Linked DNA regions of Homo sapiens: regions 2 and 3 are each reported to be linked to region 1. Evidence: microRNA targets listed by miRTarBase, many of them from high-throughput screens and not tested one by one. Region 1 holds a microRNA gene; each other region holds the end of a gene's coding sequence. Distances are from middle to middle.

What was found. Region 1 holds the annotated microRNA hsa-miR-891a-3p (AGUGGCACAUGUUUGUUGUGAG, at 1,961-1,982, opposite strand). A microRNA usually pairs through its seed, bases 2 to 8, with sites in the 3' UTR of a target mRNA and lowers its output. Matches are read on the target gene's strand: a 7mer-m8 pairs with bases 2 to 8, a 7mer-A1 pairs with bases 2 to 7 and ends in A, and an 8mer does both.
Region 2: miRTarBase lists DGAT2L6 as a target of hsa-miR-891a-3p. Seed matches in the 3' UTR shown: 7mer-A1 at 799-805.
Region 3: the mRNA of NFAM1 is a reported target of hsa-miR-891a-3p. The part of its 3' UTR that is shown has no 7-base or 8-base seed match.

What each region holds. Positions count from the first base shown.
Region 1 is chrX:146,025,844-146,028,952 of GRCh38, forward strand. MIR891A (microRNA 891a) reads right to left here and starts at 2,029; the gene lies at 1,951-2,029.
Region 2 is chrX:70,204,763-70,207,871 of GRCh38, forward strand. DGAT2L6 (diacylglycerol O-acyltransferase 2 like 6) reads left to right here. Exons shown (of 7, transcript NM_198512.3): 7 at 190-942. The coding sequence ends at 344. Among named protein-coding and RNA genes, the nearest start is that of AWAT1, 28 kb to the right of the region's middle.
Region 3 is chr22:42,382,542-42,385,650 of GRCh38, reverse strand. It overlaps NFAM1 (NFAT activating protein with ITAM motif 1), which reads left to right. Exons shown (of 6, transcript NM_145912.8): 6 at 431-3,109. The coding sequence ends at 490. Among named protein-coding and RNA genes, the nearest start is that of LINC01315, 15 kb to the right of the region's middle.

The sequences.
Region 1 (3,109 bases):
ATCACTGTCTATCTAGAGTCATTAAAACATTAAAACCATTAGATTTGTAAGGGTGGGAGAGAACAAAGAGACACTACACAAAGTACTTACTTCACAAACCATCAGTATTAACTATCAATAAATAACGGAAAAACAAGAATCTTAGCAAAAAGAAAGACGAATCTGTAGAAGTGCCCAACTGTATACTCAGATCTCCGAAACATACAAACATTTCCAAGAGGAGACTTCAGGATGGCTAACAACTTAAAGCCCTTACCAGATGAATTAGGTGGAGCAATGCTTTACTGAAAACTATTTAAAAATCCTATAGGTGTAAACATCTCACTAGAATGGTCTCAAAAATAATGAACGATATCAGAGGTAAGATGGTAATGAATAGGTAATATGTAAAAATTATGAGCTTTTTGTACATAGGCCTCTACATGTCTAAGGATTTCCAGGCTCTTACCATTTGGTAATCGGAGATTACTGTTTCCAGATCAGATGAAGGAATAGTGACCAAATTAATCTGCTGTCTAAAACAAAGAAAAACCAGATATATACAGAAAAACATGTCTTTCAGACACTGTAGAGTGATCTGTGAGAGAGGGGACACATTAGAACAGTCCGTCCATTCTCCTGCCAACTTCTCAGAGAGAGAATATTGACTCCAGTGCAAAGAATGGGAACCCAGGCAAAGCCTGGCAATTTTCAATATTAACAGATTAAAATGGAAAAAAAGAGATCATTTCAATTGATGCGGAGAAATATGTGACTAAATCTAACATCCATATCTAAAAATAATAACAGCAAATCAGGCATAGAATCGAGTATATCCTCAATTGGTTGAAGGGCTTCTATGAAAACGCACAGCTAACGGAAGACTTAATTGTTAACATTTTTATGTTTGACTCCTAAGATCAGGAACCAGGTGAGGATGTCCCATTCACCATTTATATGCAACAATTATGCCAAATTAAAGTAAATGATCAGGTAAGGACATAATATTTTATAATTTGCAATCATGGATGAATAAAATCAAGTCTGTCATCTTCAACCATTAACTTCCCCTTACCTGTGTTTGCAGTGGCGTCAACGCTTGCACTGCAAATAAATTATCTCTATGGGCATAGATATCCACAGGGTATTCTAGAAAAATATGTAAATTGAATCATAAAGCAGAATACATTACAATATGTATATGAAAAACCACCAATGAAATCCTATGAGTGATAACTGATGATACCCTTCTTAGTACTAATATAATAGCAGTGTTACTAGGACTGATACCATTAGTTATAGTACTAGTACTGCTTGCAGTAGTACTAACAGGACAATTTGCTTAATGACTACATGCCTGGCAGATATGTACTTCAGATTTTCATATGCATTTCCACATTCCATAACTACAACAAATTGTTCCCAAAGAAACGATATCCGAAAGTTTTGATTTGTCAGTGATTGAGGACATGTATATAACGTACATTTGCAAATGGAAAAAGACACACAGAAATGCAGAGATAATCACAGTAATCACAGATAACCATATAATCACAGAACAGTTTTGATTTGTCATAGCAATTGAGGACATGTGTAGAACATACATTTGCAAATGGAAAAAACCAGAAATGCAGAGATAATCACAGTAATCACAGCTAATCATGTGATCATAGAACAACATTAAGACTGCTACGCAGCGTTAACCTCACAGAAACCATCCACATTAACCTCAGAAAAACAGAAAATAAGAAGAAATTCATCTTGCTGCTACCTGTCCTCTGATCTCTGACCTAATAAAAGGTGTTTATTGAACATGCTGTCATTTTTACCAAAGTACTAGTAATACAGTCTCTACCGCTATGATTACTCTACTACCAGTGTCACTACAAGGAGGTGAAGGAGAAGCAGCAGTAGCTACATAACTGATGACTTACATGGTTTGCAGTGTCCATGAGGCCTGTAGAGATTATCTCTTTTGACCCTCACAACAAACATGTGCCACTGAGTATTTTACTGAATCAGTGGCTCAGGTTCGTTGCAAGGATTAAGGAGACAACATTTGTAGACTCTTTGGGAACCTAGAAAAAAACAAAGAAGCTACGTAATTATAATATGACTATGCAACATTGAATACCTAAAATAAATGACATACTAATTTACTATTCACAACCTGTGTAACTATCAGCATGTATATTTTCTTTCCCATTTGTATTAGTGATAATTTCCTGGTTCTGCAGTTGGAGGATGAAAATCTTGAAGGGGCTGGTAGTAAAGCTCTACCAATCCATTGTAAGAATTCCGACTTCCCAAAATTTGCAAATCACTGATTATGATACTGAATGAGGCTATCTATACCGAATGCAATTCTACAAATATAGACAATGATTCTCAACCCAGAAATACGTAAAATGTGACAACTACAAGATAAGTTTATACTGGGAAGAAAAAAAGACAGATTAAAAAGAATGACAACCTTCTCCAAACAACCAGCGATAATTGAGTGAAGACTCGTTGAAAAGCTAAATTTCTCTAAAAATATACATATGTATACATATATTCACAGATATCCATGCATACATAAGATAATGTCCCTGAAAAGCACACACACAAAAAATTGAAGGGATTATGTAATTCAGGCTTTATTCACAATAATAATGAGCAAGCCCTATATTGTTCATTTCTCTCAAATTCATTGCCTGTCCATATCTAACTCTATTTTTTTAAAGAATTTTGATAAAATTCTTCTACTGCTTATTGCCTAATGAAGTTCAAAGATATTAATAAAAAGATATATGAAGGAAAAATGTGGAGAATCTACCACAGGAGTTCCTAAATGGTATTCTTAACAGTTCTATAATAATAATCAACACTAGGTAATTGCCGTTTACAAATTCAAACTTTCCAAGAAAACCAAGTTGGTGTCTGATATGACACGTTAAATGAAGCAAATGGCTGTGAAACTTATGTTGAGCTGACAGTTCATACAAATTCATGATGTGATAGGCCAGTTGTACAATTAGAAGTAACTCTTGGTGACTTAACAACTCTGTTTATGCAGGATATTAATTTATTGAATATTTAATTGAGTATACAAAGGGAGGTGGTTATCTTTCTGGAATCATCTGAAAAA
Region 2 (3,109 bases), 76 Mb from region 1:
ATTCTCTTGAGCATGGGTTTGATTAGATGATCAGAGAACAGGGGCCAGGATGAGACTGGAGCAAAGGGAAAGAAAGAAAGAAGGGGAGGAAAGCCAGATACTGAGTTTCAGTACATGGCTCCCAGTGAGGGATGAGTAGTTTGAGTTGAGGGGGGAACTCTGATGTTTGTCTCTTTTCTTTTTTCATAGTTGGGGAACCCCTTCCAATTCCCAGGATTAAGAGGCCAAACCAGAAGACAGTAGACAAGTATCACGCACTCTACATCAGTGCCCTGCGCAAGCTCTTTGACCAACACAAAGTTGAATATGGCCTCCCTGAGACCCAAGAGCTGACAATTACATAACAGGAGCCACATTCCCCATTGATCAACCCCCAAAGCCATGAGGGATCCAAGTAGAGCCACAGAAAAAGAAGAATTCCAGGAGAGGGAAAGATCGTAAGGATGAGAGAGGAGACCATCCAAGCCAGAAATTATTTAATAAATCAGAGTTCTAGCAATAGAGTCCTCTCCCAAGTGGCTGAGGCAGGCTTAGGGGAAAGAACCAGAGGGGCAGGGGAGGACTGGGGAGGGCTGGCTAGCCAGAGGAGTTGGCTGTATCACCCCTGGTTATTTTAGGGCAACAACCCAGTTGGGGAGTCTTATGAATCATTCCAGCCAACTCTCTGATCACAAAGAATACTGTGCCCCTTTCTCCTAAACCTTAGTTCACCATCACTACGTAGGTTTAGACTTAGAAGCTTTATTTGGAACAGGGATAGTTTGTTTCCTCTTGGTCCTTTCCTTACAACTTGGGAACTGCCACAAGGTAAACCAGGGACCTGAACTGTAGCTGCCTGGTCCAAGCAGACAGGATTCCGTCAGTTGTGATAGAGTTCTAGATTGGCAATGCAGTTACATTGTTTCTTCTTTGAAAATAAAGTTCTAGACATATAAAACAGGATACCACTATTTCCTGATTATTCTGTGGTTCGCTATTGGGCTTCCCTCAAACCTAAGATTTTCCCTTCTGGCCAGAAAGCTGCTCTATGGAGAGCCCTTTTCCTCTTCTTTATTTACCCTTCATACTTCCCCGGACAGAAAAGGTGGGGGAATGGAACCATAGCTGCTGCAAAGTGTAAGAGACAGGAGCAGAAACATGGGAACTGGCACAGGTACCCGCTGTGTAGCCCACCTCTCCTGATCCCACATAACCATCCTATGTCAGAAGGGAGGGAGCCACAAGACCATGCACCAACTGTAAGTTTGCTTGATGTCAAGTCCCTTCTATGTTCCAGGGACCATGACATTGCTTTCATAACCATTGTCTCTCAATACTAAACATAAGCCCAGTGAGATTGAGATTGTCATCACCTCCATTTCACAGTAGCTAAAGCTCCTAGAGGGTTAGTAGCTTGCCCAAAGCCACACAACTTTGGATAGAACTAGCATTCAAACCAGAGTTCTCTCCAATGCACCACTCTATGTCCCCATTCCTCATTTTCTGGAGACCCACTTTTCAGCTTCATTTTCCTAAATGAGGCCCCATGGCACTCCACCAAAATTAGTTCATAAGTGTGGGCAAAAATGGCATGGATTCTACTCACAGTGGTCCTATATTAGGCCTCAGGGAAAATAATTGATTAATTTAAAAAACCTTTCTATATCAATAGAATGGAATTGAGAACACAGAGGGTCAATTGATTTTCACCTAGGGTGCCAAGACAATTCAATGTGGGAAAGAATAGTCTTCAACAAACAATACTGAAACAACTGGACATCCACATGCAGAAAAATAAAGTTGGACCTTACCTCATATCATATACAAAAATTAACTCAAATGGATCAAAGACCTAAAGTGAAAGTCAAAACTATTAAACTCATGGAAGAAAACATAGGTGTAAAGCTTCATAATCTTGGATTAGGCAATGGCTTCTTATATATGACATCAAAAGCACAAACAACAAAATAAAAAATTGATAAGTTGGGCTCCATTATAATTAAACACTTTTGTGCTTCAAAGGACACCATTAAGAAAGTGAAAAGACAACCCACAGAATGGGAGAAAATACCTACAAATCATGTATCTCATAAGAGTCTAGGAGCCAGAATAGATAAATAATTCTTATAACTCAACAACTGAAAGGCAATTCAATTTTAAAAATAAGCAAAAGATTTAAATAGACATTTCTCCAAAGAAGCTATACAAATGAAAAAGTAAGGGTCAGGTGCAATGGCTAACGCCTGTAATCCCAGCACTTTGGGAGGCCCAGGAGGGAGGATTGCTCGAGCCCAAGAATTCGAGACCAGCCTGGGCAACATAGTGAGACCCCATCTCTATAAAAAATTTAAAAATTAGCCAGGTGTGGTGGTGCATGCCTGTGTTCCCAGCTACCAGGAGACTGAGGTGGGAGGATTGCTAGAGCCCAGGAGTTCAAGGCTGCAGTGAGCTACAATCGTCACGTCACTGCACTCAAGCATGGGTGACAGGGTGAGACCCTGTCTCTAATAAAAAAGAAAAAGTGCTCAAAATCATTAATCATTAGGAAAATGCAAATCAAAACCACCATGATACCATTTTACACCCACTAGGATGACTATAATAAAACAAGATAGACAATAATAAGTATTAGTTAGGATATGGAGAAACGGAATTCTTGGGCATTGCTGATGGTAAAATGGTAGAGCCACTTTGGAAAACAGTTTGACAGTTCTCAAAGAGTTAAGTGTAGAGTTACCATATGACCCAGCAATTCTACTTTTAGTTATATAACCCCCAAATTTAAAACATGGTCACACAAAAACTTGTACATAGATGATCACAGCAGAATTACTCCTAATAGCAAAACAGTGCAAACAATCCAAAGGTCTAGCAACTGATGAATGGATAAATGTATTGGGGTCTATCCATACAACGGAATACTATTTGGCAATAAAAAATGCAGTGATGATACATGCTACAAAACAGATGAACCTTGAAAACATTATGGTAAGTGAAAGAAGCCAGGTCATATATTGCATGATTCCATTTCTATGAAATTTCTATGAAATGTCCAGAATGAGCAAATATAGAGATAGAGAGAAAGAAAGAGAGAAGAGAAAGAGAAAATAAATTAGTTGTTACCAGGGAT
Region 3 (3,109 bases), not on the chromosome of region 1:
TTGTAGCCCTGTTGTGAGGGGTGTTCTTCTGGGAGGGACCAGCCAGGGTGGGGAGGGAGGGAGGGGGTCCCTGGGACCCTATGATGAGCCCGCAGGCAGAGTGAGTAGGGGGCAGTCATGGAACAGGTGTGTCTGTGGGAGGAGGCGCATCCCACACATAGGGCAGAAGGCAGAGGGCAGAGCTGTGGGGGAAGCTCTGAGGCTGGAAGGGCAGGCCCATGTGGCTGGAGGGCAATGGGCAGGGGTGGGGGCAGCATGGTGGGGGAAGAGGCTGGGGAGGTGGGCTTGGAGACAGAGGGCAGGCCCCCCATCAAAGCTACACAGGAAGTGATCTGTTGCCCTCTGGCTAAAACTAAATTAGTGCAAGTTCATTCTTAATGGTCATTCTCTCTCTTTCTCTCCTTCCCTCCCTTTCTTCTTTTCTATCCAGGAGAGACCGCATAGATTCGAAGATGATGGCGAACTTAACCTGGTCTATGAAAATCTCTAGGATGGGCTCCACCGCTCATAGAGCTTGCCCTGGGTCAGAGGACCGGGGCAGCCCCTGCCACCAAAGGACTTGATCTGAGTTGGGAGTAAGGCCCCCAGGGACACCCCATCATTTCACCCTCACATTCAAGGCCCTTCCTGTCTTGGCCGGCCCCACTGCCCCCCCATTCTATGCCCCAACCACCAAGGCTTTCCCATCTTGGGGCCTTTGCCCAGGCTGTTCCTTCTGCCAGGCAGGCCCTTCCTCCCTTGGCCCAACCAGCAAAGCGCCCCTCAGTCTTCAAGGGCTTTCCTGGATGCCACCCTTGCCCAGAGCCCTGCTCACTGCCTCATGCTGACAGAGCAGCATGCTCTCTTGGCACCAGCCTGCACCTCAGCCAGTAGGGCAGCCTCTGAGCTGAGGGAGGACCCTGCAGGGGCGCCTAGCAGTGCTGTGTGGGGAGCCGAGGTATGGAGGAGCTGGGGAGCAGCTATGCAAATCCCTACCTACCCAGCTGGGCCAGAGGCACGAGGCAGCCAGGCAGGGTGGGAGCAGGGGCTGGCGTGGGAGGTCTGGGGGACAGACAAGGATGATGGACCCCTCAGAGGCAAGACTAGGATCAGGGACAGATCTGGAGGCCCAGGACATGGCTGAGAGGTGGTCAGCAGGCTGGGGGCATGGAGCAGAGAGGGCTTGGGTACAAGCTGGAGAGGAAGGAGATTCTGGCATGTTGGGGTGAGGGCAGAGGGACAGATGAGGGGAGGAGGGTGCTGGCTAAACAGGAACTGAATGAATGGCCTGAAGCTCCCTCTCCCAAGGGTTCCCACTCCCATTGGCCTGGCCCTGTACGTGCACTCTGTCATCTCCTTGGTCACCCTCTGCTCCAGGCCTTCTCCACCACAGGACCTCAGCTGTCCCTCCTTCTACCCAAGGTGGAGTCCCCCAAAGTCCCTTCTGTCTGGCCTATCCTGTGCCCACCACCTGTGGCTTCATCCAGCCCTCCTCCTCTATCTTTATCTGCCATAGGCCGCAGCCCTGGCCCCCTGTGGATTGAGGTCCCAAGTGGTCCAGCTGTGGGGTTTGGTGCTGGGACCCTCAATGGCAGCCGGAAGGTCCCTCTGAGGCAGAAGCTCAAGCCCCATGGGGACAGTGGCTCCCCAGTGCCTGGCCCTGAGCCATTTCTGCTGTTTCAGGTGCCCACATCACCCTCATTTCCTCCTCGCAGTAGCCCTGCACCGTGGCCAGAAACCCATCCACAGGCAGGCAGTGGCTGGGGTCCGGGTGCCCCGGGCTGTTGGGCTCTGCTTCCTCCCTCTGCTCCCCCATGTCTCCCTGAGTTCTCCCACCTTTGCTCATTTGTAAAATGGGCAGGTCAATCTTCCCACCCCACCGTGTGGGCTGCCCCAACCCCAAATGTGCCCAGGGAGGGGGGGGAACCCAAGGCACAGGCCCCGCCCCTGCCCCCAAGCAGCACTGGGCTACTGGCTCACAGAAGCACCTTTGGTTCTGCAGGTCATGCCCCTCCCTGCAGGGAAGGGAAAGCTGGTGGTAGAGGCTGGGCACAGACTGACGTCCAGAAGAAGTCCCTTGGCCCTGCTAGGGTGGCACCAGACTTCTCTGGTCCCACAGGACAGCCAGTGGCCTCCCAACTTGGTTCTGGGCCCCCGCCTGCAAGCACACATGGCAAGGAGGGCTTTAGCAGGCTCACATAACCGAGTGGCAAGGCCCCTGCTCCCAGAGGCTGGATTTGAATGAACTCCGGGCCTGTTTGGGGAGGTGAAGCTGCCAGGTGTGCACAGGGGCCTCCCAGGCTCCTGGCTCCACCAGCCAAGGAGGTGGGGGCAAGGGTCAGGGCAATGGGGGACAATGCCGCTCAGGGTGCAGTGAGCTCCCCTGGGAAAACCGAAGCCAGCAAGACCAGGAGAGGGCCACCTCACTGGGCCTGCCTCCCCCACCTCCTGGGCCTCTCTGACCTCAGCTCCTAGACCCTGGACCCTTGGCTGGGACTCAGCATTTTCCAGTCTTTTTCAGGGGTAGACAGGGGAGCCTGGGTTAAACTTTACCACTGTGCCCTGGCCCAGGCATCACCAACACGGCCTCCCTGCAGCTGCCCTGCCACCGACAGACCCCGATTAAACCCACACCTGGCCTTGGCCTCCCCTGCTCTATACCTTGCATGGTTTTTGCCTCACTTGGAATAAAATTCCAACTCCTCCCTGTGGCGTAGGAGGTTCTTGGGGGCTGACCCATCACCCCTCTGGTGGACAGAGACATTGCCAGCGTGGTGGTCGTCTGTGCTTGGTTCAGGGCAAGGCTGGGAGGCAGTGGGTGCTGAGGTCTTCAGTGAGCAAGGAGAGAGGCAGGGAGGAGGAGGAGGAGGAGGAGAGCACAGCATGAAAGGACGGGACCCTAAAGGGCTTTGGCCCAAGGGAGGGTGGGGCAAGAATGTTCTGAGACTTCTGTGGGCAGCAAAGAGGACTGAGCACCTGTTCTCCAGCCCCCAGGACTGAGAGCCTGCAGAGACAAGCTGGCACAGGGCGAGGGGTGGCAGGGAACTTCAGGGTGGGAGGTGCATGGGGCAGGCGGGAGGAGGAAGAACAGAGAGGGGACAGAGAGGGTATGAATGGGAGCTCCTGGGGT